Regions from separate parts of the Homo sapiens genome. Here all the other regions are linked to region 1. Evidence: fine-mapped expression QTL. A gene starts in region 1. Each other region holds a variant in brackets. All regions are shown on one strand. Distances are from middle to middle.

Region 1 (4,000 bases):
CACGAAGATCACCCATATCCAATCCATATTCAAATGTCTCCAATTGTCAACAAATAGTAAAACCAGCTTAAAAGACATATCAGGATCCAAGCAAGATGACACATTGTATTTGGTTATGTTTTCTAGCTCTTCTATTTTGGAACAACCCCTCCCTACCACTTATATTTTTCTTTTCTTTTCTTTCTTTCTTTCTTTCTTTTTTTTTTTTTGAGACAGAGACTCGCTCTGTCACCCAGGCTGGAGTGCAGTGGCACGATCTCGGCTCACCGCAACCTCCGTCTCCGGGGTTCAAGTGATCCTCCCACCTCAGCCTCCTGAGTAGCTGGGACGCCTGGTGTGCCACACTACATCCCACCAATTTTTGTATTTTTAGTAGAGTTGGGGTTTCATCATATTAGCCAGGCTGGTCTCCAACTCCTGACTTCAAGTGATCCGCCCGCCTCGGCCTCCCAATGTGTGGGATTCCGGGTGTGAGCCGCTGCGCCTGGCCCACTTATATTTTTCATGGCATCCCATTTATGAAGAGACCAGGCTCCCTATTTTATGTAACGTGGGAATGGATCTTCCTGTTCATCTCCTCTGCTCAGTGTACGGTCTAGCAAGAGCAGACTCTCTGTAGGTGTTTGTTGAATAAATGAAACCAATAGTAATGGTTATTAATAACAATCCCAGTAGCCAATTTTTATTGACTATTCTCTTGGCCAGTGTGCTCACGTTAATCTAATTTGAACCTCACAGAAATCTTACGCGTTATGACATATTTGTCTTATTCACAGGTGAGGAAACCAAGGCTTAGGGAAGGAAAGTCGCTTGTCTGAAATCACAGCTAGAAAAGGGGCCAAAACCCAAGGGTGGACCCACTGGCTGGAAAACAGTGCAGTTAGGCAGGGGCCCCTGTTTCTTAATAATGAATGAACCAACGACCCCCAAGGCTGGTTTGCCCGTGCACACGCACGCACGTGTGCAACACGTAGCACTTGCTGAGTGTTTGCTACTTGCCAGGCCTCATGTCAAGCACTTTACGCGTGCTTTTATGCCCTACGTTTTGTTTTTGTCTGTTTTGCTTTTTTCCCCTAATGCCTAGCCAAAGGCGTGGCCCAGGCGCCCAGGCAGGACTTGGGGAGTGAATGAAGAGTGAACAAATGAATGAATGCGCGGCAACGGGATCTTCATAAACCAGACCCTCCTCGGGGATCTAATGCGAACACTCCCGAGGCCCGGGCCCAGGTACGCTGAGGGCGGCTCGTGGGCCCCAGGCCGACCTCAGCCCGCGACTCCCGGGCTCCGGGGGCCCAGGTGGCCCCCAGTAGGTGAGGAGCCGGGCCCGCCGGCGCCTTGGCGTTGCCACCTCTACCTGCCTGCCCTCTCCCCTTCCGGATCCACAGCCAGGCCTCGGCGGGCTCCTGGTGTGCAGCCGCCCGGCCGCTTCCGCCCGAGGGTCGCGGGGCTCAGAGTCCGGCAGGCTCCAGGCGGGGCAGGGGATGTCCGCGGCCCGGCAGGCGCACGCCCACCTGTCGGCCGCGCAGGCGCAGCAGCGGGCCGGCCTCCCCGCGCCCCGCGGCGCGCGGCCAGTGCGCAGGCGCGGCGGCCGATGCGAGTGTGTATGTGCGGGCGAGAAGATGGCGGCGGCGGGGGAAGCAGCGTGAGCAGCCGGAGGATCGCGGAGTCCCAATGAAACGGGCAGCCATGGCCCTCCACAGCCCGCAGGTAGCCGCCGGTCTGCGCCTTCGGCCGGAAGGGGCCCGAGCCCCGGGCGGGCGGACGCCGCGGCGGGCGGGCGTCCGCGCCCTGCCCGGAGCGAGCGTGTGGGAGTGGGGGAGGGCGCTGGGACACGCTGCCCGGGCCTAGGCCGGAGCCACCCGCCGCCTCCGCGCCCGCCGCGCCTTCGTCCCCTGAGCCACCCGGACCCCCTAGTCCCGGGGAGGTCGAAGGGCGGGGGCTCCGGGCCCCGCTTGGGGAGGGCGTGGAGGGCGCCGAAGGGGTTAACCTCCCTGGGGCTGGACCGCGGGGCGAGCCCGGGGTGTGGAGTGGGGCCCTCCCCGCCGCGCCGGCCGGGGGAGGCGGCCCGGGGGCTCCGGGAGTCCCCTGGAGCGCAGGGGCCCCAGAGCAGCTCAGGTTGCTGCCTCTGCCTGGAGCGAGCCTCAGAGATTTGGGGGTGCCCTGTTGCCCCTTTGCCCCAAGAGCTTCCTTTCTCAGCTTGATTGATGATGCGGGGGTTGCCGATTTTCTGTTTTTTAGATAGAAGTAGCAGAGTAGCGGCCTTGGGCTGCTGTTGCAAAGAAAACTCGAAATAAGTCGCAAGGACCGTACTTTCACTTGCGTTTGAGTGACATCCCTTGCACGAATCCATCCCAGCCAGGCTGACAACTAACGCACCCTGCCTGAACAGTAGCTAAAGCTTGGGGGCCCTTTACAATAATCCCGTGGTGGAAAGAAAGAGCTCTTTTTGGGAGATGTGCGTGTAGAGTTAAGCTCTTATTCCCCTCTCCCACCCCTTCTCTCACATCTTCTCCCCCCTCCGCCATTATAATTATTCTGGACAAAAATCGGCATGATGTATTATTTGTCAGCCTTGCTTTAGACTGCTAATTTGTTGACATCTGGTCCCTATAAATTGTTGCACACTTTTAAACCATCTCATTGTGTATTTGTATTAAATATGGGGAAATGAAACAAAGTAGCCATTCGGGAAACTGATTGCGAGTAAAATCATAACCCTTCATGAGCAATTGGGTTTTGTTGCCCTTCTGCAGATGAAGTCAATCTGACTACACCTCTTTTGAAACATGATTTTCGGAACTATTGTAATGAATGCGTGTTGTGGAATCTAAAATGCGAAAACTTTTTAAAAAATTAGATCTTACGACAAGCTTCAATTTTGTTAAATTAGCTGTAGTTTAGTTTGCATCAGAATTTCCCCCTTTAACGTTTTGTTCCCTTATTCATTTACTTTTGTAAGTAGTGTAGGTCTTTGCGCCAAAAAAGGGATCAGTAGTTGAATAATTTTTACAAATGTATAGCCCAAAGATTTTAAGAGATTTGGTGTATTTAGCTTTGTTTAGACCTTTCTGTTAAAAAAAAAGATTTGATATTTGCTTTTTTCTCAACTTAAATCCTAATTAACTAGCTTATTAGAATTGGTATGAACAAGTAAAAGGCTCATTATGAATTAATGTGTAATATTCCTTGTGATTTTGACATGAAGAAAGCATCTTTAGGCATAGCTCACTTCCTTTATTTAATAAGCATCAATCACAATTCAAGGTTGATTGAAATGTTAATTAATGGGGATGGATAATATGTAAACTTAATTGTAATTTCGTTTGCATTCATTGTCCCAGTATTTACGTTTTATACAACAGTCTAAAGCGTTATACACATCTTTAGAAAATTGGAGTAGCAAAAGTTGGCGGAACGTAAATGTTAGCAACACTTTGGGTTTATTCTTTTAAAGTATGATTTAAATGCTTTTAAGTTTTAGCATGGAGAAAGTAGCAAAGGAAATAGTTTGATTTCTCATAATTTTCTTCTTCTTTTTTTTTTTTTTTTTGAGTTGGAATTTGGCTCTTGTTGCCCAGGCTGGAGTGCTGTGGTTATTAACCTATAAACTTTTTTATTTATTTTGAGATGGAGTTTCGCTCTTTTTTTTTTTTTTTTTTTTTTTTTTTTGAGACGGGAGTCTTGCTCTGTCGCCCAGGCTGGAGTGCAGTGGCATGATCTCGGCCCACTGCAACCTCTGCCTCCCGGGTTCAAGCGATTCTCCTGCCTCAGCCTCCCAAGTAGCTGGGATTACAGGCGCCCACCACCATGCCTGGCTAATTTTTTGTATTTTTATTAAAGACGGGTTTCACCATGTTGATCAGGCTGGTCTCAAACTCCTGAGCTCAGGTGATCCACCCGCCTCGGCCTCTCAAAGTGCTGGGATTATAGGCGTGAGCCACTACTGCGCCTGGCCGATTTCTCATAATTTTCATTTTAAAAGAATAGTAATGCAAACAAG
Region 2 (4,000 bases), 210 kb after region 1:
AAATGACAATTAAATGTGCAGATTCCCCACGCACCCGATGACCTATTTTTTCAGCCGTGGGAGGAATGGAGTCTTTGGTACATTCCTCACCGAGGTTAGCAGCTCAGTTTGTGGTTATGAAACCGTCTGTGGCCTCATGACAGCGAGAGATGGGAATACACTAGAAGGATCTCTTTTCCTGTTTTCGTGAAACGACTCTTGCCAAACGTTCCCGAGGCGCCAAGGAGTGTAGTACACCCTGGCTGCCATCACTCTATAAAAGTGCTTCATGAGCCCAGACCAAAAGCCCACAGTGAAATGAAGTACCCTTTTGTAAATAGCATTTTTTTGCAGAAGGTGAAAATTCCACTCTCTACCACCGGGCCAGCCAATAGATCACTTTGGTGAATGCTAGTTTCAAATTTGATTCAAAATATTTCTTAGGTGAAAGAACTAGCAGAAAGTCAAAAACTAAGATACTGTAGACTGGACAAGAAATTCTACCTGGGCACCTAGGTGATGCCTTCTTTCTTTGATTGCCTTTCTAATAAATGCAGAATCTGAAGGTAAATAGGTTTAAAACAAAACAAAAACCCACCCCTTTAAGGAGTTGGTAAAAAGCAGTTCAACTCTTAGCTTGACTGAGCTAAAATTCACAGGACTACGTGCTTTGTGCATTGTAGTCTAGTCGTAATTCATAGGTACTGACTCCTCAGCCCCAAATGTCGGAGAGGAAGAATTCGGTCAGCCTGTCAGGTCGTGAGTCCAGTTACCACCAAACATCTGGGAAACTTCTGGGTGCTGGGTGCTCTGCTGCTGGACTTTTGTGGCTGTGTCTGTGTCTGCAAGATAAATTAGATCGCCCTGTGGGGTTTGCAGAATTAGTGAAGGGTCCAGGACGATCCCAGTGGGCTCGCTTCCAAAGCATCCCACTCAAGGGAGACTTGAAACTTCCAGTGTGAGTTGACCCCATCATTTAAAAATAAAGTCCCCGGGTTCCTTAATGCCTCCTTCACTGGGCCTTCCTAGCAGGATAGAAAGTCCTTGCCCAGAGCAGGACCTGGCTGTCTTTTTTTTTTTTTTTTTTTTTTTCCCGAGACCAAGTTTCACTCTGTTGCCCAAGGTAGAGTGCAGTGGCGTGATCTCTGCTCATTGCAACTGCCGCCTCCCGGGTTCAAGCAATTCTCATGCATCAGCCTCCCAAGTACCTGGGACTACAGGCGTGAGCTACCATGCCCGGCTAATTTTTGTATTTTTAGTAGAGATGGGGTTTCATTATGTTGGCCAGGCTGGTCTCGAACTCCTTACCTCAGGTGATCCACCCACCTTGGCCTCCCGAAGTGCTGGGATTACAGGCATGAGCCACTGCGCCCGGCCATGGACCTGGCTGTCTTTATCATCCCCACAAACATTTTGAAACTGGAATATTTGTCTTCAGAAAATGGAAACAAGACTATAAATGATAAGCCCTGTCCCTAGCACCACCTCTCCTGTGTGTGGAATAGAGGCCCCTCGTGCTACCAACACTTACCCTGTGTTTAAAAAGATCTTGTACCAAGCCAACGGCGTTCCTGGCTCTCCTGCCCACAGGATGAACATTTTCGGCTTCCTTAGGAGTTTTGCCCTACCGTATTCCAAAGCGTGTGCTGGTTTCTCATATTGTCTGTAGGCTCACTCAGCCCGCAGTTTATGTGTGTGCTTTTTTCTATGAAAAATGATGTATTTTGCTACTTCCTGTGTACAAAGTTTTATTGTAAATGTTTTTTGTGCTTTGCATGAACAGGGGCCACGTTGTTGCAATTGTTTCAGTAGAACTGGTTTGATTTCTAAAATGTTCCTGTAACATATCTTTTATGAACAAATCTGAACAATTTGTGAAATAAAACATTGAAAACCATCTTTCAGGCTCTGGACTGTTTTGTGTTGGCTGCTTCTGCTAGGATGTCTCATATACACAGAGATGCTGACAGCCAGGGCCTGGTGGAGACCTCCACCCCATCCGCGGGAAGGAGGGAGGAGCTTGCCAAAATGCAATTTCGGGCTCAGCAAGGCTGGGTTGGGGCCAGGGACTGTGAATTTCTCCCAAGATCCTGGTGATGCGAATGCTGCCAGTCCCCAGATCACACTCTGAGTGGTGGTGGGCTCAAGGCCATTCTGTCTAAGCTCCGGCTGCCCTAACAAAATACCATAGACTGGGTGACTTAACCCACAGAGATATCTTCCTCACAGTTCTGGAGGCTG[G/A]AAGTCTAAGATCAGGGTGCCAGCAGCGTTGGTTTCCTCTGCGGCCTCTCTTTGGTTTGCAGGTGGCTGCCCCTGGCCGTGTCCTCACATGGCCTTTCCTCTGGGCATGTACACTCCTGGTGTCTCTCTCTCTCTCTTATAAGGACACCGGTCATATTGGGTCTGGGCCCCACCCTTAGGACCCATTTAACCTGAATTACCTCCTTAAAGGCCCTACCTTGAAATACACAGGCTGGCTCATGCCTGTAATCCCAGCACTTTGGGAAGCTGAGGCAGGAGGATCACTTGAGTCCAAGAGTTCAAGAGCAGTCTGGGCAACATGGGGAAACCTTATCTCTACAAAAAAAATACAAAAATTTGCCGGGCATGGTGGCGCATGCATGTAGTCCCAGCTACTTGGGAGGCTGAGGCAGGAGAATTGCTTGACCCTGGGAGGCAGAGGTTGCAGAGAGCCAAGATGACACCACTGCACTCCAGCCTGAGTGACAGAGCGAGACACACACACACACACACACACACACACACACGAAAGAAATACATTGGGGGTTAGGGATCGTTTTGTGTGGTTACAATAAGGAAATGATCAAAGTACGATTTCACAAATCACACAGTTTATTGCTACACAAAGATGTTTTTTCCTTAGGTTCCCAGTGCTTAAACAGGGAGAGAATGAGACCAAACCTCACAGAGAATACACTCGACAGACGAAGCCCATTAACCCCACAGTGGGTCAGTTCCAGAATGATCAAGGCCTACTTGCTCACTTAGGATGGAAGCAGGCCTCAGTTTGAGGTGCACCTTCTACCAGCCGTTCTTGGAAGCGCTGTAAGGTCCCTAGAAGGCAGTTCCAGCGCTGGCCAGAGGCTTCTGAGAGTAGCTCCAAGGCTGGCGGGGTGACCTGTCACAGCTGGAGCTCCCAGCTTTGGGAGAAGATGCCGAGGGTGCAGCCGGCCACAGCCAGAGCTCCCAAAGGGTCCGTCCCACTGGCAGGTTTGCATGTGTATGGAAGTCCAGTCGTGAGGGTCAGGAGCTCGCAGACGGGGTCCGATAAGGGGTGAGGCCACATTCTCCAGGGAAGAAGGGGCACACCAAGTTCTTAGCGCAGCAAAACGCGTCACCCACGTAGCAACCTGTGGAGGTGTCTGGAATCATTTCAAAGCCCTGTGGGCCGGGCACAGTGGCTCGTGTCTGTAATCTCAGCACTTTGGGAGGCCGAGGTGGGTGAATTGCTTGAGGTCAGGCGTTCGAGACCAGCCTGGCCAATATGGTGAAACCCCATCTCTACTACAAATACAAAAATTAGCCAGGCGTGGTGGTGCACGCCTGTAATCCCAGCTACTTGGGAAGCTGAGGCAGGAGAATGGCTTGAACCCAGGAGGAGGAGGTTGTGGTGAGCCGAGATCGCGCCACTGCACTCCAGCCTGGGCAATACAGTGAGACTTTATCTCAAAAACAAAACAAACAAAGAAAACCCTATGTGTTCAGGGTGGGAAATTTAGTTCGTAACGGTCACCTTCTTCCCAGGCATCAGCCCAAAGCAGCCCCTTTTCACCAAGCGCAGTCACATCTCGCTGAGTGCCTCAATGCACCAAAGCCCCAGAGCAATTTGGGGGCACGGGGCCGGCCTTTCCTCTCCCCGGTGAAGGCGCCTGCCTTCCTCTCAGGCTCATCTCTAGTGCGGTCCTTTTCCATGCGTGATGGGGATAGCTTTCCTCTTTAAGAAATACCAGGCTTTTAAAATGTCCATTTTAAAATGTTGAGTAAGTTAAGATTGTGCAGG
Region 3 (4,480 bases), 68 kb after region 1:
GGACACCCCCTCGGGATGGGAGAGAAAGATGAATGGACAGCTCAAATGGAGGCATCGGGAACATGGTTTTTGTGCAGAGGCCGGGTATCAGAATTTCAAGGCCACAGAGGGTCAGCATACTCAAAGATCCCAAATTTGTCTAAGAGTAACCAGTGGAAAATACCAGCGTCCATTTGGAGGACTTGCTGGCTCAGATTGAACAGCTCTGTCACAGCTGCTAGCCACATCCTCTGAGGGGTCTCTGTGTTGAAATTGGTTGTTGATGTTTCTTTTTGAAAAACGGTAAAGCAAAGATAGGGAATTCTTACAACGTAGGAACTTCTTTTCAGCCATTGTTAAGCATGATTCTTTATTCACACCAATTGAAAGATTTACTTCTAAAACTCAGCCTCTTCAGATGTTTTTCAGTTTCCCCAGGAAGACTTCCCCGCCTTTCTTCCCCGGTGCCACCTTTGCTAAAACACAGGACCACTGAATCAAGAGGGCTTCTTGATTCTCCACCAGCTCTCATGAGCGGTTTCCCCACTACTGTATCCCTCTCCAGAACCAGGGGAACTGTTGTCACTGAAGTCTTCAAACTGTAAAGGAGCATGGAGATGCGTAATTAAACCCTGGACAGAAAAGCTTTTAGCGAGCTCTTCACCGCATCTGTTCTGGAAAGCCTGAGTACCTGTCCACACCCATTTTATTCCGTTGAGAAACTAGGTCACCGAGACTGCAGAAATAGAAGCCCTTGTTGAACCCCTGGAATGTTTCCTTGCTGAGGCTAAATGAGAGATGGGCCGAACACACAATTTTTACTCAGAAAAACTTAGAAAAAGGAAAAAAAAAATGAAATGAAAAACCAGCTAAGAAAACAAGGTCAAATTGGCGCCCTTCTTGGAAGGGTGGCAGCCTTTTTTCCTGGAATGTTAACTTGTTTTTTATTCTACACACCCTACTCCCCTTCTTCTTTTTGTAAGACATCTTTATAGGAGGAAAATGCCATTAAAAATCCTCTATTTACCTTGGGATTTCCTCTATTTTATTAGAACAGGCTATGATACTTGGAGAAAATGGAAAGCAGCAGCGTTTTGAGGCCATGGCAGGGTGGCTGCCTTTATGAACCGGTGCAGTAAATAACAGTGTGGAGAGGAAGTGAAAGAATTTGGAAAATGAAATATGTTTTCTTCCAGAGCACTGGCGTTGGGAACATTTATCAACTGGTAGATTTAGTTGTTAGAAATACTAAGGAGGTGCTATTCAGCAGAATTATTATTATTTTTTTTAATTTATTTTTTTATTGATAATTCTTGGGTGTTTCTCACAGAGGGGGATTTGGCAGGGTCATGGGACAATAGTGGAGGGAAGGTCAGCAGACAAACAAGTGAACAAAGGTCTCTGGTTTTCCTAGGCAGAGGACCCTGCGGCCTTCCGCAGTGTTTGTGTCCCTGATTACTTGAGATCAGGGATTGGTGATGACTCTTAACGAGCATGCTGCCTTCAAGCATCTGTTTAACAAAGCACATCTTCAGCAGAATTATTTTTAAATTCAGTATATTTTTGGCTTTTCTCTGTGGTCTTTTGAAAGTGATATTGAATAATCTTATTTTCAGTGTTTATTCCCTTGGTTAATCTTAAGGGAAAGTGGCAAGGAGTGGTCTCTTAATTTTTTTGTTTTTGCTTTCAATTCTTAGGTCTGTGGTTTACCAGCAGAGTTCAAAAGAATCTGCCACTTTGCAGCCATTTTTCACGTTGCAGTTGGATATCCAGTCAGACAAGATACGCACAGTCCAGGATGCACTGGAGAGCTTGGTGGCAAGAGAATCTGTCCAAGGTTATACCACAAAAACCAAACAAGAGGTATGTTCACACTTGATTTTGAACCTTTCTACTAAGGTGCTCTGGTTTGGTGGAAAGAACACAAAATTAGGAATGAGGGGAAATGGGTTTGAGTTATGCCTCTTAAATCAGTTGCTTAACCATTTTGTACTGAAAGTTTTTATGGTTTTACAATGAAATGGTTGAAACGTGATCCCAAGGGCCTCTTTTAGCTCTAAATCATATTAC[A/G]CAAGGTAATGATCTCCTTTTGGATTGTTTATCTTGAGCTACATTTAATTTTCTGGCAATCTAATGATGATATCACAACATCAATACTACCTCTGACAGAGGCCAAATAGCTTATTTATGTTCATGATACCGTAGGGTACAACTGTCATTAGATTAGTTAGGATGTCAGAGAGATTCCAGACACATCTGTTTTGCATTTGATTGTAGATCTTCCAGGTCATTGTAAATATAATATAGTCATTGTAAATATAATATAGTCATTGTTCTGATGCTTGTTACTCTTTGATTTGATCTGGAAAAGGTAAGATTCTTGAGTCTTTCAGTCTTCATGAATTTAAGAGTATCACATTATAGCTTGGTGGAGTCCTTGTCAACTCAGTTGGGCGAGACGGATAGCATTCTGCCCTGTGAGAGCTTATTAGTTCCTGGCTGTCCAGATGTGCCAGCTTATAGCTATTTTGTACTCTGCAGCAGAGAGTGTCTTCTCTGTTATATATCTTAGGTTGTGGCAGTGAATTCATAAAAATGCACTGGGGAGATGAATGCAGGCTGATAATTATGGACGGTCCATAGCATTCCTGCAAAGCGATATTTGAATAATGGGCAGTGGATGGCAGCTACAAGGTAAAATAAGGTGCCCCAACGTAGAAGACCTGTCATCACATTGCATGACTGGGATGGATCTATCCTTGGCTTATCTTGTGTGCTCTGAGTCAGAAAGAGCAAAGTAGGACATAGGGACCCTTAGCACCTTCGGGGTGTCCTGCTGTGGACTGGTTCACCCAGGCTCTGGGGGGATCAGTAGAAGTTATGCCTAATCTTCTACCGTATTTGCAGACTTGCATCTCATGGGTGATTTTGTTTAAAAAATAGAAGCAGTAGGAGCCAGAGGCAGAAACTTGGTAGTTGACTTCAGTGAATGAGCTAAGAAGAGTCTGGCGGTGGACCTCGTGGAAGAGAGAGAGGGAAAAAGTGGTATTTGTGTTGGGGAGGTTGGTTGGGTGGTTCAGTTGTGCATTGTGGGTGACTGTCGGCTTGGCTCACTTCTGTGGCAGCTGCAACTCCAGAGATAGCTCCCTGGCCCTGGCTGCTGGTGCACTCTGCTTATGCTGTTTCTTGAGCCAGCTATGGGAGTCTTTGGCCACCCATGCTGTTGGGGAGGTGGTCAGCCTTTCCATGGGCTGCCTAGGGAAGACCCTTTTGTGATGTGTCTGTTTTTCTCTTTTGCTTCTGCTGCAATTACAGTTTGACTTTGCTGGGGTGGGCTGGTAGGGGTGGCGGTGTGGGGGCAGGGGTTGAGGCGCAGGTAGTTGTTAGCCTGTTGTTAGACGGTAGTGAAGAAAGAATGGTTTATCCTAAATAGCAGGTTTGGATGAAGGCTTCCAGAAAGAAGGCGGGCCAGGTGTGGTGGCTCACGCCCTTAGTCCCAGCACTTTGGGAGGCTGAGGCAGGAGGATTGCCTGAGCCCAACAGTTGGAGGCTGCAGTGAGCTATGATCACGCCACTGCACTCCAGCCTGTGCGATAGTGAAACCGTGTCTCTAAAACATAAGAAGAAATAAAAATAAAGGAAAGCTGGCATTTTGGTGGACTCCGGAAGATAAAAAGGATGCTGCCAGCCGTTCTGGGTGCGTGGTTGTGGTGGTGTGTTACCAGATGAGGCCAGGACCACTTTCAACAGCAGATGTTTCAGGAAGATTTGGGACAGCTTGTATGGAAGTATCTATAAGGAGCAAATTACATATTTTCTTGAATGTGTTTTTTTTTAAGTTTTTAAAATGCCACCTTTAACTTTATTATGTTTTAGATCAGAAGTATTTTTCTGTGGGAACATGTGAAGGTTTTGGGGAAAATAGGATTATATGAAATATTTGCTATATAGAAAATGTCTGCCTTTGTTGAGTGATTAGAAATTAAGCCTCAGTTGGCTGGGCGAGGTGGCTCACACCTGTAATCCCAGCACTTTGGGAGGCCAAGGCGGGTGGATCACGAGGTCAGGAGATCGAGACCATCCTGGCTAACACGGTGAAACCCCGTCTCTACTAAAAATACAAAAAGTTAGCCGGGCATGGTGGCAGGCGCCTGTAATCCCAGCTACTCAGGAGGCTGAGGCAGGAGAATGGCGTGAACCTGGGAGGCGGAGCTTGCAGTGAGCCGAGATAGCGCCACTGCAGTCCGGCCTGGGCGACAGAGCGAGACTCCGTCCCCAAAAAAAAAAAAAAAAAATCTCCAGTGGCTGATGCCTGTAATCCCAGCATTTTCGGAGGCTGAGGCAGGCGGATCACAAAGTCAAGAGATCGAGACCATCCTGGCCAACATGTTGAAACCCCATCTCTACTAAAAATACAAAAATTAACTGGGCATGGTGGTGTGCACATGTAGTCCCAGCCTCTCAGGAGGCTGAATCACTTGAACCCTGGAGGTGGAGGTTG
Region 4 (5,234 bases), 100 kb after region 1:
GAGAGCCTGAGGAACATGCCCAGCGTCTCAAGTGAGGAAATGGTGGGCTAGGATCCAAACCCAGGAGGTGGGCAGCTGGCCACTGGGCCACAGCGCCTCCCCATAGGGTGAGTCCAGAGCCCCCAACCAAAATGGCGGATGGGCTGCAGGAGAAAGGAGGGACTGATGTGGCTTCTACCTGCGTCAAGTGGACCAGGTGTGGGACGAGTTTCAGGGGAGCAGGAAGGGAAGAGAGGAGTCAAGAATCCTCGACTGGCTGGGCGTGGTGGCTCGTGCCTGTAATTCCAGCACTTTGGGAGGCCGAGGTGGGTGGTTCACGAGGTCAGGAGTTCGAGACCAGCCTGACCAACATGGTGAAACCCCATCTCTACTAAAAATACAAAAATGAGCCGGGCGTGGTGGCACTTGCCTGTAGTCCCAGCTACTCAGGAGGCTGGGGCAGGAGAATCGCTTGAATCTGGGAGGCGGAAGTTGCAGTGAGCTGAGATCACGCCACTGCACTCCAGCCTGGGTAACAGGGCGAGACCCTATCTCAAAAAAAAAAAAAAAAAAAAGGAGTCCTCGACCATGCCGTATGCTTCCAGTTACAGAATATTCTTGAACAGGCAAGCAAGTCTACAGCAAAGCAACAGAAAGCAGATCCATGGTTGCTGGGGGAGGTGGGACGCAGATGGGCGTGATGGGAACATTCTGTATCATGGTGGTAGTTGGGCGGGTATAGACATCTGTTCCTCATCCAGCTGTCCACTTAAATGGGTACACGTGCTTGTGTATAAACCCCACCCCCTGTAAGGTTGATGTTAAAAGTGCTTCTGAGGCCTCCTATTGGTGACATTGCCCAGGTCGGTGGACGTCAGGGGATCCTATTTCTTAGAACACAGGGATGTCTTTCCGTCATTTGAATTTCTGGCTAGCCGACCTTTTTCCTCCTCAGCTGGAGCCCCTACCTGCCTCGGGGGACTAGGAAAGCTTAGCAGAACCTCAGCAGGAAAGCAACTTGTTTAGCTTTTAGAGTTCTCAGTGAGACCAGAGCCCTGGGAAGGAATGAAGAGGGGAACGGGGTTGCCCACATCCTTTGCACCCCTTTTGCATCAAGAGTCAGGCCCGTGGTCCTTGGCAAACTCACGCAGGAACCGAAAACCAAATACCGCACGTTCTCACTGATAAGTGGGAGTTAAACGATGAGAAGACATGGACGCATAGAAGGGAACACCACCCACTGGGGCCTGTCGGAGGGTGGAGGGTGGGAGCGGGGAGGGGATCAGGAAGAAGAACTCATGGATACTGGGCTTAATACCTGAGTGACGAAATAGTCTGTACAACAAACCCTCGTGACACACGTTTACCTAAGTAACAAACCTGCACATCCTGCACATGTACCCTGGAAATTAAAAGTTTTTTTTAAAAAAACGATTGTTTTACAAAGTCAGTGAAAAAAGGGCCAGGCGCGGTGGCTCACGCCTGTAATCCCAGCACTTTGGGAGGCCGAAGCAGGCGGATCATGAGGTCAGTAGATCGAGACCATCCTGGCTAACACGGTGAAACCCTGTCTCTACTAAAAATACAAAAAAATTAGCCGGGCATGGTGGCGGGCGCCTGTAGTCCCAGCTACTCCGGAGGCTGAGGCAGGAGAATGGCGTGGACCCAGGAGGCGGAGCTTGCAGTGAGCCAAGATTGCACCACTGCACTCCAGCCTGGGTGACAGAGCGAGACTCCGTCTCAAAACAAAAACAAAAAGAAAAACAAAAACAAAAAAACAACAAAGTCAGTGAGAAATTTAAAAGAAAAAAAAAGGTCAGGCCTATTGAACTTCAAACTTATTATCAGCCAGAGGGGATGGAAAACCCAGTGCCTCATGGAAGGAACACCCCAAACATAAGAAGGTGGAAAATCCTCCCTCCCAGCTCCAGCAAGGTGAGCGGACAGGTGAAAAAGAGCTTCTGCCCCTGGTCGGGACCCTGGAGTCAAGGGAGGAGGCAGATTAAGGAGGAGGCTGAGAGCGAACGTGTTACGAGGCAGCTCCCTCCAGTGCAAGGTGGAGGACAGCCCTCGTGCACAGTGGAGCAGCCCCAGCCTGGGTGACTCCCCAAGCCCTGTAGGCCGATGTGGCCCGGTATGTCCAAGCTTGCTGGAGTGGGTTAACTGGTGGCCCCCAGAATGATATATCCAAGCCCTGATGCCCAGAACCCGTGAATGTGACCTTATTTGGAAAAAGAATCTGGCTGGGCACGGTGGTTCATGCCTGTAATCCCAGCACTTTGAGAGGCCGACACAGGTGAATCATCTGAGGTCAGGAGTTCGAGATCAGCCTGGCCAACATGGTGAAACCCCACCTCTACTAAAAATACAAAAGTTAGCCGGACTTGGTGGTGCACATTTGTAATCCCAGCTACTCGGGAGGCTGAGGCACGAGAATCGCTTGAACCCAGGAGGCGGAGGTTGCAGTGACCCGAGATCACACCACCGCACTCCAACCTGGGTGATGGAGCGAGACCACATCTAAAATAAATAAATAAATAAATAAATAGGCTGGCTGCGATGGCTCACGCCTGTAATCCCAGCCCTTTGGGAGGCCGAAGTGAGTGGACCACAAGGTCAAGAGATTGAGATCATCCTGGCCAACATGGTGAAACCCCGCCTCTACTAAAAATACAAAAATTAGCTGGGCGTGGTGGCGCACGCCC[G/A]TAGTCCCAGCTATTCGGGAGGCTGAGGCAGGAGAATCACTTGAACCTGGGAGGCGGAGGTTGCAGTGAGCCGAGATCAGGCCACCGCACTCCAGCCTGGGCAACAGAGTGAGACTCTGTCTCAAAAAAAAAAAAAAAAAAAGAAAGAAAAAGTATCTTTGCTGTAATCAATAGAAGGTCTTGAGATGAGGCCATCCTGGATGACCATGTGTGCCCTAAGTGCAACCATGAATGTCCGTATAAGAAGAGAAGAAGGCTACGCGAGGACAGAGGCAGCGATGGGAGTGATGCGGCCACAAGCCAAGGAACACCTGGGGCCCCTGGAAGCTGGAAGAGGCAGGAAGGATCTTCCCTCTCTCCACTCTGCAGACGCTTTGATTTCAGACCGCTGGCCTCCGGAACCGGGAGAGAACACATCTCTATTGCTAGCCACCCAGTTTGCAGCAGTTTATTAGGACATCCCCGGGAAATTAATCACGGCTCCTGTCATGTAAAAAGATCGGTGGGTGGGCTCCGTCTTTGCCTCTCTGCAAAACCGTGAAGTCCCTAAACTTCCTTCCCACTCATCTAGGGGGAGAGGAGAGGAAGGAGGGAAAGAGCGAGGGCCCTGAGTGGCTCTGAGTGCACATGGGTGGGCTAGTTGCTGCAGAGACCACTGCAAATTAACAGAGATGATATAGAGAGACTGAGGCTGAGCATGGTGGCTCACACCTGTAAGCAGCACTTTGGGAGGCAGAGGCAGGCGGATCACTTGAGGTCAGGAGTTTGAAACCAGCCTGGCCAACACGGTGAAACCCCATCTCTACTAAAAATACAAAAATTAGCCAGGCATGGTGGTACAAGCCTGTAATCCCAGTACTTCGGGAGTCTGAGGCAGGCAGATCGCTTGACATCAGGGGTTTGAAACCAGTCTGGCCAACATGATAAAACCCCGTCTCTACTAAAAATACAAAAATTAGCCGGGCATGGTGGCACATGCCTGTAATCCCAAATACTGGGGAGGCTGAGGCAGGAGAATCACTTGAGCCCCGAAGGCGGAGGTTGCAGTGAGCTGAGATTGCACCACTGCACTCCAGTCTGGGTGACAGAGTGAGGCTCCGACTCAGAAAAAAAAAAAAAGAAACCAAGAGATGTCCTGTTGTCAAGGTTAAGTACTACCCCACCCCTCAACTGCCCTGTTAGGGAAAATAAGGCAGTTGCATTTTCAGACACGCAAGTGGGACCCGCCGAGATTAAAAATGCAAGAAGCAGCGGTTCACAGGATGCCGAGGATGACTGGACTTCCTGTCCACCCCCTGGGCCTGGCCAGAGCTTCTGCAGGCACTTCAGGCTCCCCTGATGGTGGCGGTGATGCCGTGGGTGCTCGGGGACAGTGGGAATGCAGTGACACCACTCGGGCTAGAGAACCCCCCGGAGGCTCTTGCATTGGTCGTCCTGGGCCATGCACAGCCTGGAACTGGCCGCTATCCAATTTTGCATCTGGGAAGTGTTCATCGATTGCTAGAAAAATAATCAGGTCGAACGCAGGCCATTTCCGGTAAAGAGGCTCTAGGGAAGCACCTTCAGGCCAGATGACTCAGGACTGTGCGGAGTGTGTGTGGTCTGGGAGCCGGCTGCCTGCCGGGCCCGGGTGCTCTGCAGGGAAACAGTTGGCTGCCTGAGGGCTCATTCATGGCTGTTTCCCCTGGAAGGGCGGCGCAGGAGCCCGGTTCTGCAGCCCTGCCGACGCCGTGTCACAGACACAGCTCTTCATGGATGCATCTGGTTTCCCATGGCTGCGGTAACAAGTGACCACAAGGTTGGCGGCTGGAAACAGCTTAAGTATCCCATCTTACGGTTCTGGAGGTCAGAAGTCTGAGATCGGCATCACTGGGCTAAAGTCAAGGTGTGGGCGGGGCTGGTTGCTCCTGGAACCTCCAGGGGAGAATCGTCTCCTTGACTTTTCCAGCTTCTAGAGGCTGCCTGTACTCCTGGGCTCATGGCCCCTTCGTCCATCCTCAGAGTGCATCACTCCAACCTCGGCTTCCATCATCACAGCACCTTCTCTTCTGACGCTGACCCTCTGGCCTCCCTCTTACAAGGGAGGCTTGTGATTCCGTGGGGGCCACAGGAGAATTCAGGCCGCTCTTCCCATGTCACCACCCTTAGCAGAATCACGTCTGCAGAGGCCCCGTTACAATGAATGCTGGGTCCAATCGCGTTTCCCAAAAATCCATGTCCACCTGGGACCTCAGAATGGGACCTTATATGGAACTAGGGTCTCTGCAGATGTAATCACATTAAGATGATGTCACACTCAACTAGGATGGGCCCTAATCTAGTGCCTGATGTCTTCATAAGAAGAGGAAAGTTTGGACACAGATGCACCGGGAAGGTGGCCATGTGAAGAGGAAGTCGGAGATTGGAATGGCCACAGACGGGACATCAGGCATTGCCGGCCACCAGAAGCTGAGACATGTGCAGATGGATCCTCCCTAGGCCCTTCGGGAAGAGCATGGCCCCTTCGACACCTTGATCTTGGACTCCTGGCCTCCAGGACTGTGGGAAAAT
Region 5 (5,234 bases), 63 kb after region 1:
CCATTTAAGTCAAGTTTACTTGAAGCTTCATTGCTTTGAAGAAGAGTGAATGTCGAGGGCATCGTTGCAGGATACCACCAGGGGTAGCATAGGGTCTTAAGCTTTTTAAATGCTTATAATGCAGCTTTTGGTATTGGCTTGGAATTTGCACTTCCCAAGTAATGGGAACATGGTGTTAGGGATGCAGAAATGGAATGAAGTGCGCCCTCTGCCCTCAGTGAGGGAATGAGTTAATGAATAGTCAACAAGAGAAGCACAAAGATACAGAGATGCCTTAGAACCCAGAGGGGCCCACCTAGCACAGGTGGAGGCAAAATAAAGTGGGTGCTCAGGAACCCCTCTTGGATCGTGCACAGAGATAATGCTATGAACAAAAGCATCTTCTAAAGGTTACATTAATAGGGGATGTGTTGGGCTCCCCAAGACCACCCTGAGGTTGGGTGATTCACTGGAAGAACTCAGAAAATGCAGAAGCTGGTATACCCGTGGCTATGGTTGCTGACAGCAAAAGCATGCGGAGCAGAGTCAGGAAGGGAAAGGACAGGTGAGGCAGGGCCTAAAGGAAACTTCCAGACTCCTCTCCCAGTGGGGCCACAAGGCTACGCGTAACTACTCCAGCACCAGACTGTGACCACACGTGAAATGCTGCCAACCAGGGAAGGTCATTACAGACTCCGTGTCCAGAGTTTTTACTGAGGGCTGGTCCCATAGGTACCATCTGCCTGGCTTGAACCAAAAGTCCAAACTCCCAAAACAAAAGCAAAGTGTTCAGCAGAAAGCACATTGCTTGCGCAAACGGTTTAGGCAGAATCCCGTATCAGTTATTGGACCGATGGGAACCTTTCTGAAATCCAAATTCCCAGACACCAGCCAAGGGGCAACCTTGCAAGCAGGCCTTTCCAAGGAGAGCCACCCAGGCCTGCTATGAAAAGTCTTCAGCACACTTTGGCTGTGCCAGTTTTTGCCCTTTTCTGCACACGTGCAGAGCATGCACTCACGTGAACAGCTGCTGTCCACGTCTACTATCTGGAGAGGGCAAGTAAACTTTGCAGTTTACCTAGATGCTTCAAACAGAACAATTTGCAGGGCCTTGGAATAGGCAGTTGTGCTGTGAAGAATGAAATATGAACTGATGATAAGTAACAGAATCAAACACTCGTGATGTGGGATTATTAAACTCTTGGGTGACTCGTCTGTGAATGATTTTGCTGATGTATGTGTAACACAGCTAACGCTCTAAATCAGTGGAGTTTTTCCACATGTAGTTTGAGTTCTTTCCCATGTAGTTGTCCATCATCAAAGACAGACAGAAGCAGACATAGGGCTGCTTAGCTCATTGCTCGAGTGGTGACCCTTGCAGTTGAACAGTGAACTGGCCCTAGACATCTAGTTCTTCGTCTTCTATTTTGTTTACCCAAGACAGAAACTTTTTTTTAAATAACTTTTTTGTGATAAAGGTAATGTGGCCAGGTGTGGTGGCTCATGCCTGTAATCCCAGCACTTTGGGAAGCCAAGGCAGGCAGGTCACCTGAGGTCAGGAGTTTGAGACCAGCCTGGCCGACATGGTGAAACCCCGTCTCTACTAAAAATACAAAGATTAGCCAGGCATGGTGGCACACACCTGGAGTCCCAGCTACTCGGGAGGCTGAGGCAGGAGAATCGCTTGAACCCGGGAGCTGGAGGTTGCACTGAGCTGAGATTGCACCACTGCACTCCAGCCTGGGTGACGGAATGAGACTTTGTCTCAAAAAAAAAAAAAAGTATATTTATTGAAGAAAATTTCAAAAATACAGAAAGTATAAATAATAAAAATCCCCATTAGTCCACCCATTTAGAGATATGTGTTTAGTCAGTTTCTCCTTTTCCTCCTACTCTTGGGATTTCAGCTATGCAAGGGAAACCCATGTCATCATGTCATTGTTTGGAAATACTTTACATCTTCCATTTCAGAGGAGGCATGGTTGGACTTTGCAAGTACTGCATGTCCTGCAGGCCTTTGACAGTGATCAGTTCACAGTAACGTGATTATATTTGACCTTTTCAGGGTCGACAAGAAGATGCTGAGGAATACTTAGGCTTCATTCTAAATGGACTTCATGAGGAAATGTTGAACCTAAAGAAGCTTCTCTCACCAAGTAATGAAAGTAGGTTATGGTCCACTTGCCGCAGAGTTGTGCAAGAGTTCGCTGTAAACAGGTGTTGCATACTCATATGTTATGTTGCTTCCCTGCCCCTCAGTCGTTTTCCTTTCAAATAGCATTTATTCCCTACGATAACTTACACCATCGAGAAGGTTATATTTAGGTAAATTACAGTTTATCCCGAACCTCTGCCATTTTCCTTTAACTTTTAATTAGGAAAATGATCAAGCCTATAAAAAAGCTGAAAGAATCGTTTGATGAATACCTTTATAATTGCCGAGTGTACAGTTTTAAACATATTTTCTGATGCTATACACACACTGTGTATATATATATATGTCTTATCTGTCCATCCATATATACATACATACGCATACATTTTCCCTGAATGATTCAAAGTTAAGTTGCAGCTAACAGTTTAGTTCATCTCAGGTGCTAAAGCATCTCCTGCGTAACCACAGTCCCTTATCTAACTGAGAAAAACAACTGTAATGACACGGTAATACCGACTTTGCAGAGCATCTTCAAATTTCGCCAGTTGTCCCAGGGATGTCATTTCTAGGAGTTTATGTAAACAAGGATCCAGTGGTGGTGCACCTGTTGCGATTGGTTGCCGTGGATCAAGTGGCATTGCAATGGGTTGCAGTGGATCCAGTGGCATTGCGCCTGTTGTGATTGGTTGCCGTGGATCCAGTGACGTTGCACCTGTTGCGATTGGTTGCCGTGGATCCAGTGACGTTGTGCCTGTTGGGATTGGTTGCCATGGATCCAGTGACGTTGCACCTGTTGCGATTGGTTGCCGTGGATCCAGTGACATTGTGCCTGTTGCGATTGGCCGTGGATCCAGTGACGTTGCTCCTGTTGCGATTGGTTGCCGTGGCTCCTAATGTAGACCACACCCTGATTTCATTTTTAAAACTGCAATCGACAGATCTGTGCCTTTTT[T/A]TTTTTTGCTGTTCTTGTCGTAAATAGTAGTGTAAGCAGATGCTCTCCTTTTCAGAACTTACGATTTCCAACGGCCCCAAAAACCACTCGGTCAATGAAGAAGAGCAGGAAGAACAAGGTGAAGGAAGCGAGGATGAATGGGAACAAGTGGGCCCCCGGAACAAGACTTCCGTCACCCGCCAGGCGGATTTTGTTCAGACTCCAATCACCGGCATTTTTGGTGGACACATCAGGTTTGTGCTTTTCTGGAATAACTTAATATTTGCCTTTTCTAGGGTTTTGCCATGTTGGTGAAGGGGGAAGGTGTGAGGCTTGTTTTGAGACTTCTTGGACGTAATGGTTTGCATCTTGCTCCCCTGCCTGCTCTTCTCTTGCACTTCCTGATGCTTCCCTTGTCAGCCCCCGTGGCTTATTCTCTCCCTGCTGGCGCATGTCTGCAGGGGACAGGGAGCTCCTCCCTTCTACTCTGTCAAGTTCAGCTGCTCACTGCTAGGGAGTAAGAGAAAAGCCAGCTAATTGGCCATACGCGGTGGTTCATGCCTGTAATCCCAGGACTTTGGGAGGCCAAGGCGGGTGGATCACCTGAGGTTAGAAGTTCGAGATCAACCTGATCAACATGGTGAAACCCCGTCTCTACTAAAAATACAAAAATCAACCAGGTGTGGTGACAGGCACCTGTAATCCCAGCTATTAGGGAGGCTGAGGCAGGAGAATCGCTTGAACCCAGGAGGCAGAGGTTGCAGTGGCCCAGATAGCGCCATTGCACTCCAGCATGGGTGACAGAGTGAGACTCTGTCTCAAGAAAAAAAAAAGAAAAAGATACAGGAGAATGTCATCATGACTTAGGGGTAGGCAAAGGTTTCATAAGATAGGTCATAAACAATAACCACGAGAGAGAGAGAAAAAAAAATATATATATATATATTAGACTTCATCTGCATTTAAAACTTGCAACATAAAACCACCTCCGGGAGGCAGAGGTTGCAGTGAGCCAAGATTACACCACTGCACTCCAGCCTGGGTGACAGAGCAAGACTGTCTTCAAAAAAAAAAACCAGCTAACCAAACCATGTGTTTTGGTAAGAGAAGACAGTGTATCTGGAGGAATTTTATTTATGTTAATAAATTGTGTATATTTAAAGTATACACAGATGTTATGAAATAGAGATAGTAAAATAGTTGCTACAGTGAAGCAGATAAACATATTCCCCATCACAGTTACCCTTGTGTGTGTGTGTGTGCACATGGCAAGAGCAGCTGCAGTTTTACTCATTTCACAAAAGTCCCAAATACAGTGCACTATGAGTAGCTCTTGTCCGATGTTCCACATCAGATCTCTAGACCTGTTCGCCTGTGTGGCTGCCCTTGGTGTCCTTCGACCGACATCTTCCATTCCCACTCGCCACCCCTAGGAACCACTCTTTTCCCTATCTCTGTAGTTTCGTCTTTTTTTTTTTTTTAATAAAGATTCCATGTATAAGTGAGACCATGCAATATTTTTCTTTCTGTGTCTGACTTCTTTAACTTAGTATAATGTTCCCCAGGTTCATTCCTGTTGTGGCAAATGGCAGGGTCTTTATTACAGCTGAATAGTGTTCCCTTGTCTATATATACACACCACAGTTTCTTTATCCATTGGCCCATCCACAGACAGTTGTTTCCCTGTCTTGGCTGTTGTGAACTGATTGGAAGCAGGTGAGGTAGAAAGTGAAGAGAGTGTGAAGGGAGGTCTTTTTTACACAGACAGACCCGTGACTGGGCTGGAGTCCCTGGGCACCTGGCTGTGTGCCAGTTCCCTTAAGCAGCTTTTTGCTCATTCACAAAGTCCTTCGGAAAGGTTTTTCTTTATTTACCTGAGAGCTTTTCAGTACCACTGTGATGTGGAATTCAGCAAAACTTGTACCATCTCCAAGAAGGTTTACCCATCGAAAGTACTGAAGAGGCCTCATTGGAGCCTAATTTCCTTTCTGAGGCCTTGCGGCATAACCCCCAGGCTGGTATTTCAGTGACACTCTTAGTCTGTTGTTGTCCCAAATGCTGCGTACCTGAAAGAAAGAGCACCCCTTTTGAGGCATCAAGACTTGATTCAGTCTCAGTTCTGAGACTGAATCAACAACTTTCAACAGGTGAATAATAAGAACCTCAGAA
Region 6 (5,234 bases), 47 kb after region 1:
TTATAGTTGTTTCATTTTCCGCAAATTGTTCAGCGTAAGTAAAGGACGTAATAGATTTGTTGATTAGGAAGAGAACTTAAGGTTTTTATTTTCAAAGAGAAAGTGAGTAATTACTGGTACTTAGAGTTTGTAGAACTGGGTTCTTAACTAATAGTTTTCTTTCTAAACAGGACAAGAATATCAGAGAATTGAGTTTGGTGTCGATGAAGTCATTGAACCCAGTGACACTTTGCCGAGAACCCCCAGCTACAGTATTTCAAGCACACTGAACCCTCAGGCCCCTGAATTTATTCTCGGTTGTACAGCTTCCAAAATAACCCCTGATGGTATCACTAAAGAAGCAAGCTATGGCTCCATCGACTGCCAGTACCCAGGCTCTGCCCTCGCTTTGGATGGAAGTTCTAATGTGGAGGCGGAAGTTTTGGAAAATGATGGTGTCTCAGGTGGTCTTGGACAAAGGGAGCGTAAAAAGAAGAAAAAGCGGCCACCTGGATATTACAGCTATTTGAAAGATGGTGGCGATGATAGTATCTCCACAGAAGCCCTGGTCAATGGCCATGCCAATTCAGCAGTCCCGAACAGTGTCAGTGCAGAGGATGCAGAATTTATGGGTGACATGCCCCCGTCAGTTACGCCCAGGACTTGTAACAGCCCCCAGAACTCCACAGACTCTGTCAGTGACATTGTGCCTGACAGTCCTTTCCCCGGAGCACTCGGCAGTGACACCAGGACTGCAGGGCAGCCAGAGGGGGGCCCCGGGGCTGATTTTGGTCAGTCCTGCTTCCCTGCAGAGGCTGGCAGAGACACCCTGTCAAGGACAGCTGGGGCTCAGCCCTGCGTTGGTACCGATACTACTGAAAACCTTGGAGTTGCTAATGGACAAATACTTGAATCCTCGGGTGAGGGCACAGCTACCAACGGGGTGGAGTTGCACACCACGGAAAGCATAGACTTGGACCCAACCAAACCCGAGAGTGCATCACCTCCTGCTGACGGCACGGGCTCTGCATCAGGCACCCTTCCTGTCAGCCAGCCCAAGTCCTGGGCCAGCCTCTTTCATGATTCTAAGCCCTCTTCCTCCTCGCCGGTGGCCTATGTGGAAACTAAGTATTCCCCTCCCGCCATATCTCCCCTGGTTTCTGAAAAGCAGGTTGAAGTCAAAGAAGGGCTTGTTCCGGTTTCAGAGGATCCTGTAGCCATAAAGATTGCAGGTATAGTTGAAAAGATACAAATCTAGAGTGAAGATGGGAGCAGACCTCATCAACTGGGCTTATAGACTGTGGTGTTACCCATAACAATGGCAGATTACCTGTGTGTTAATAGCAACGTCTGAAGGATGCCTATGTCTTAAATGTTCTCTAAAAGTAAGATAATATAGAAACAAATGGGAGGAGAGGGTTGTCGTAACTTTATGTTAAGTGAAAGATCCATGTCTGTTAGCAGTTCTTTTCTGTTGACAAGTTACATTTCCATTTCTTGCCTTTTGTTCAAGTAATTCTGCTCCACGGTATGAATGTATAATGGACTTTTTCTGTGATATACCTTTGGTATGATAATCCTGATTTGTACTCACTGTGTGCTCCTTTTTTATATTTCTTAAGATACAAGAAATCATTTTGTGAAATAACATGGTTTTTTTTTTTTGGATTGAGTAAATGGATTTTATTCAGAATTTTGATACACCAAGGTCAGCTCTTGAAGAGAAAAAAAATGTTAAGGGTTCAGCCCAAAGTTAATGTTTTATTTTAGAGTGCTAAGGCTCCAAAGTAGAAACAATTCACAATAAAAATAGAAAGCTGCATAATTCACAGATTGTTTTTAAAAAGTTACAGTAGGAAGTCAGAAATGCAGCAGGGTATGAAAGAGGTATGTGTCCTCACATAGCCACGTGTTGCTTAACTAAGATGGATATGTGTTCCGAGATGTGCGTGTTAACATCAGAGAGTACTACACAAATACAGGTGGTAGAGCCTTAGGCTGGTGGTGCAGCCTATTACTCCCGGGCTGCAAACCTGTCCAGCGTGTTACTACTGAATACTGTAGGCAGTTGTAACACAGTGCTAAGTATTTGTGTGCCTGAACACATTTAGACATAGAAAAAATATAGTACAGATATGGTATAAAGGATGAAAAGTGCTTCACCTGTATAGAGCACTCACCGTGAATGGAGCTTGCAAGACTGGAGTGGCTCTGGATGGGTCAGTGATGAGTGCTGAGTGAATGTGAAGGCCCAGGACAGTACTGAGCAAAGCCGAGTTTTATAAACAGTCAACACTTAGGCTGTACTACGTTGATTTACAAATTTTTCCTCAATAAGAAATTAACCTTAACCTACTGTAACTTTTTTACGTTTTATTTTACTTTTAAATTAAAAATTCTAAACTTTTTGACTCTTTCATGAGAACATTTAGCTTAAAACACACACTACAGCTATACAAAAATATTTTCTTCCTTTTTATTCTTACTTTCCTATAAGCTTTTTCATATTAAAAATTGTTTTTAACTTTTTAAACTTAAAAAGTAAGACACAAACATTAGCCTGGGCCTGCACAGGGTCAGGAGCATCAAGACGCCACTAGGCGGCAGGACGTTTCAGTTCCACTAGAATCTTGTGGGACCATCATACGTGCGGCTCATTGTTGACCGAAATGTTACGCCGCGCGTGACTGTACGTACCTAAGAAGCAGAAGCTGTGTC[A/G]TCAGGTTGGATTCCACCAAGCCTGGTGACCAGATCTTCAGATTGTCACCCTAGTAGCCAAGTTAAAATAAGCTGTTTGGTTTAGGCTTTCTGTAATACTTTCTGATGTGACCTTTTGGAACACCTGACACCCTTCATTACCAGGATGTAGCAGCAAGCTGCCAAATGCACACCCTTCGATGGATGGTCAGAATTGTGTAAAAAATAAAACACATTCTTTGGGTGGCAATAGGGTGATAGCAAGCAATGTATATATATTTTTAAGAGTATTTTATTCCTTATACAAAATACATTATCTCAGGTACTCTTGTTGTTCTGAAGTTCTCTTAAATGAGCAAATGATAGGCCAGACGTCGTTATTTTGGGCTTCATATATATTTTTTAAAGCCAGGTGATTTTTTTTTTTTTTTTTTTTTTTTTTGAGATGCAGTCTCACTCTGTTGCTCAGGCTGTAGTGCAGGAGGCACGATCTTGGCTCACTACAACCTCCGCCTCCTGGGTTCAAGTGATTCTCCTGCCTCGGCCTCCCAAGTAGCTGGGATTACAGGCACATGCCACAATGTCTGGCTATCTTTTTTTGTATTTTTAGTAGAAATGGGGTTTCACCATGCTGCCCAGGCTGGCCTCAAACTCCTGACCTCAAGTGATCTGCTCGCTTCAGCCTCCCAAAGTGTTGGGATTCCAGGTGTGGGCCACCGCACTCAGGCCAGGCGATTTCTTGAATACAGCTTTCAGAATGTATTTATTGCAAGGACTGATACTGTAGGTGGATGACAAGGTCAGGAGATCGAGACCATCCTGGCTAACACGGTGAAACCCCGTCTCTACTAAAAAAAACCTAAAAATCAGCCAGGCGTGGTGGCGGGCGCCTGTAGTCCCAGCTACTCAGGAGGCTGAGACAGGAGAATGGCGTGAACCTGGGAGGCGGAGCTTGCAGTGAGCCGAGATGGCGCCAGTGCACTCCAGCCTGGGCGACAGAGCCAGACTCCATCTCAAAAAAAAAAAAAAAAAAAAAAAAGATAGATTGTGTAAGCCTTTATATAGATTACTAAGTTAAAAGTTTATTTTTAACCTATAATGAGAAATGCATGGTGGGGTCCTGTTAAAAATGTGCATTCTAAGTTCGAAGTCATGAGAATTTTATTTTCTTTTCTTTATTTTTGAGAGGGGGTCTCACTCTGTCGCCCAGGCCGGAATGCAGTGGCGCAATCTCGGCTCACTGCAACCTTCTCCTCCTGGGTTCAGGCAATTCTCCTGCCTCAGCCTCCCTAGTAGCTGGGACTACAGGTGCCTGGCACCACGCCAGGCTAATTTTTGTATTTTTAGTAGAGACCGAGTTTCACCATGTTGGCCAGGCTGGTCTTGAGCTCCTGACCTCAAGTGATCCTCCTGCCTCAGCCTCTCAAAGTGCTGAGATTACAGGCGTGAGCCACCGCGCCCAGCTGAGAATATTATAGTTTCGTTTCTAAAATTGCTCCACAAAGGAAAACCTCCCATCTTAGGGAGATTTTCTCTATCTTTATTTAAAATAACCAAGAAAAGCTTCATTTAAAATGTTTTAGAACATTCTACTTAGTCATATGACTTTAAATATAGTTTGATAAATAGTTTGTTATGTTCTGTATATGTTAAAGTCTAATTGAAGTAGCTTTGTCAAACACTGAAAGTAAGGGCCTCTTAATGACTGGTAGTAGAGGAAAGCCTTGCCACACACAGTCCACGTAATTATTTTTGTGTGGACATATTGTAAACCCCTACCAAACAGATTATTTTTTTAATCCTATTTGGTTAGGTCAGTTATGAAGATGTTTTAATTTTCTGAGCAAAAGTGTAGTTTCTTTAAAAATATATAATTCTTTTCAGCCTGTTTGTTGAGGCTTCGATAGACAGAACGTAGTTGTTGACAGTTTCAGGAGTCTCGTGAGATAGTAGAGCAATAGAGTCACATTGAATAACCCTTGGGATCATATAGGGCTTAGGGAGAATGGCATTGTTTGAAATTTTTTTTGTTGTTTTATTCTCCTACTTAGGGATTTACTTTATAAAAGTGGTAAAACATACTCAGTTTGTTACAAGTCAGATCCACTACCACAAATTCCCTTTAGTGGGCACACTTTTAAGTGTAGGCCCACTTATTTTAAGCAGCGTTTAACTGAGTGAAAGTCTAGTTTCATTAAAAGATCTGTTGATGTGGGTTATAATAGAGTTTGACTTGCATTAGTATCTAACTGTTTCTACTGAGACAGTGGTATTTGTGTTATTAACTTTTGGGAAAGAGGGAGTAGGGAATGATTTAGACATTAAATGTATTCCTTTCTGCCAGGCATGATAGTGTGGAGATTGAGGCTTGAGGCTCGATAACTTGAGCCCGGGAGTTCGAGGCCAGCCTGGGCAACATACTGAGACCCCATCTTTAAAAAAAAAAAAAATTATACACACACAAAATGCTTGGAATAATTTGTGTATTTTTTATCTCAAGTTTGTTTCAAATACTCACATTTCTGGACTATTTCCCCTATTGTTAAGTCTGCTTAATA

What was found.
Region 2: its variant is fine-mapped to the expression of USP10 in whole blood (TOPMed, PIP 0.90).
Region 3: its variant is fine-mapped to the expression of USP10 in whole blood (TOPMed, PIP above 0.99).
Region 4: its variant is fine-mapped to the expression of USP10 in whole blood (INTERVAL, PIP above 0.99).
Region 5: its variant is fine-mapped to the expression of USP10 in whole blood (TOPMed, PIP above 0.99).
Region 6: its variant is fine-mapped to the expression of USP10 in whole blood (TOPMed, PIP 0.93).

The regions. Positions count from the first base shown.
Region 1 is chr16:84,698,405-84,702,404 of GRCh38, forward strand. It overlaps USP10 (ubiquitin specific peptidase 10), which reads left to right and starts at 1,596. Exons shown (of 14, transcript NM_005153.3): 1 at 1,596-1,707. The coding sequence starts at 1,687. RefSeq lists silencers at 1,068-1,587, 1,678-1,897, 1,908-2,017, 2,058-2,167.
Region 2 is chr16:84,907,633-84,911,632 of GRCh38, forward strand. It overlaps CRISPLD2 (cysteine rich secretory protein LCCL domain containing 2), which reads left to right. Exons shown (of 15, transcript NM_031476.4): 15 at 1-1,876. Among named protein-coding and RNA genes, the nearest start is that of LINC02176, 18 kb to the right of the region's middle. RefSeq lists a silencer at 2,523-2,638. The variant G/A (reference allele first, on the strand shown) is at 2,221.
Region 3 is chr16:84,766,517-84,770,996 of GRCh38, forward strand. USP10 (ubiquitin specific peptidase 10) reads left to right here. Exons shown (of 14, transcript NM_005153.3): 11 at 1,677-1,842. Among named protein-coding and RNA genes, the nearest start is that of CRISPLD2, 51 kb to the right of the region's middle. The variant A/G (reference allele first, on the strand shown) is at 2,050.
Region 4 is chr16:84,802,471-84,807,704 of GRCh38, forward strand. No RefSeq gene overlaps it. Among named protein-coding and RNA genes, the nearest start is that of CRISPLD2, 15 kb to the right of the region's middle. RefSeq lists enhancers at 1,878-2,378, 3,546-4,124, 4,125-4,701 and a silencer at 4,086-4,285. The variant G/A (reference allele first, on the strand shown) is at 2,685.
Region 5 is chr16:84,760,945-84,766,178 of GRCh38, forward strand. It overlaps USP10 (ubiquitin specific peptidase 10), which reads left to right. Exons shown (of 14, transcript NM_005153.3): 9 at 2,045-2,144; 10 at 3,142-3,319. Among named protein-coding and RNA genes, the nearest start is that of CRISPLD2, 56 kb to the right of the region's middle. RefSeq lists a silencer at 1-273. The variant T/A (reference allele first, on the strand shown) is at 3,087.
Region 6 is chr16:84,744,463-84,749,696 of GRCh38, forward strand. USP10 (ubiquitin specific peptidase 10) reads left to right here. Exons shown (of 14, transcript NM_005153.3): 4 at 171-1,211. Among named protein-coding and RNA genes, the nearest start is that of USP10, 47 kb to the left of the region's middle. The variant A/G (reference allele first, on the strand shown) is at 2,698.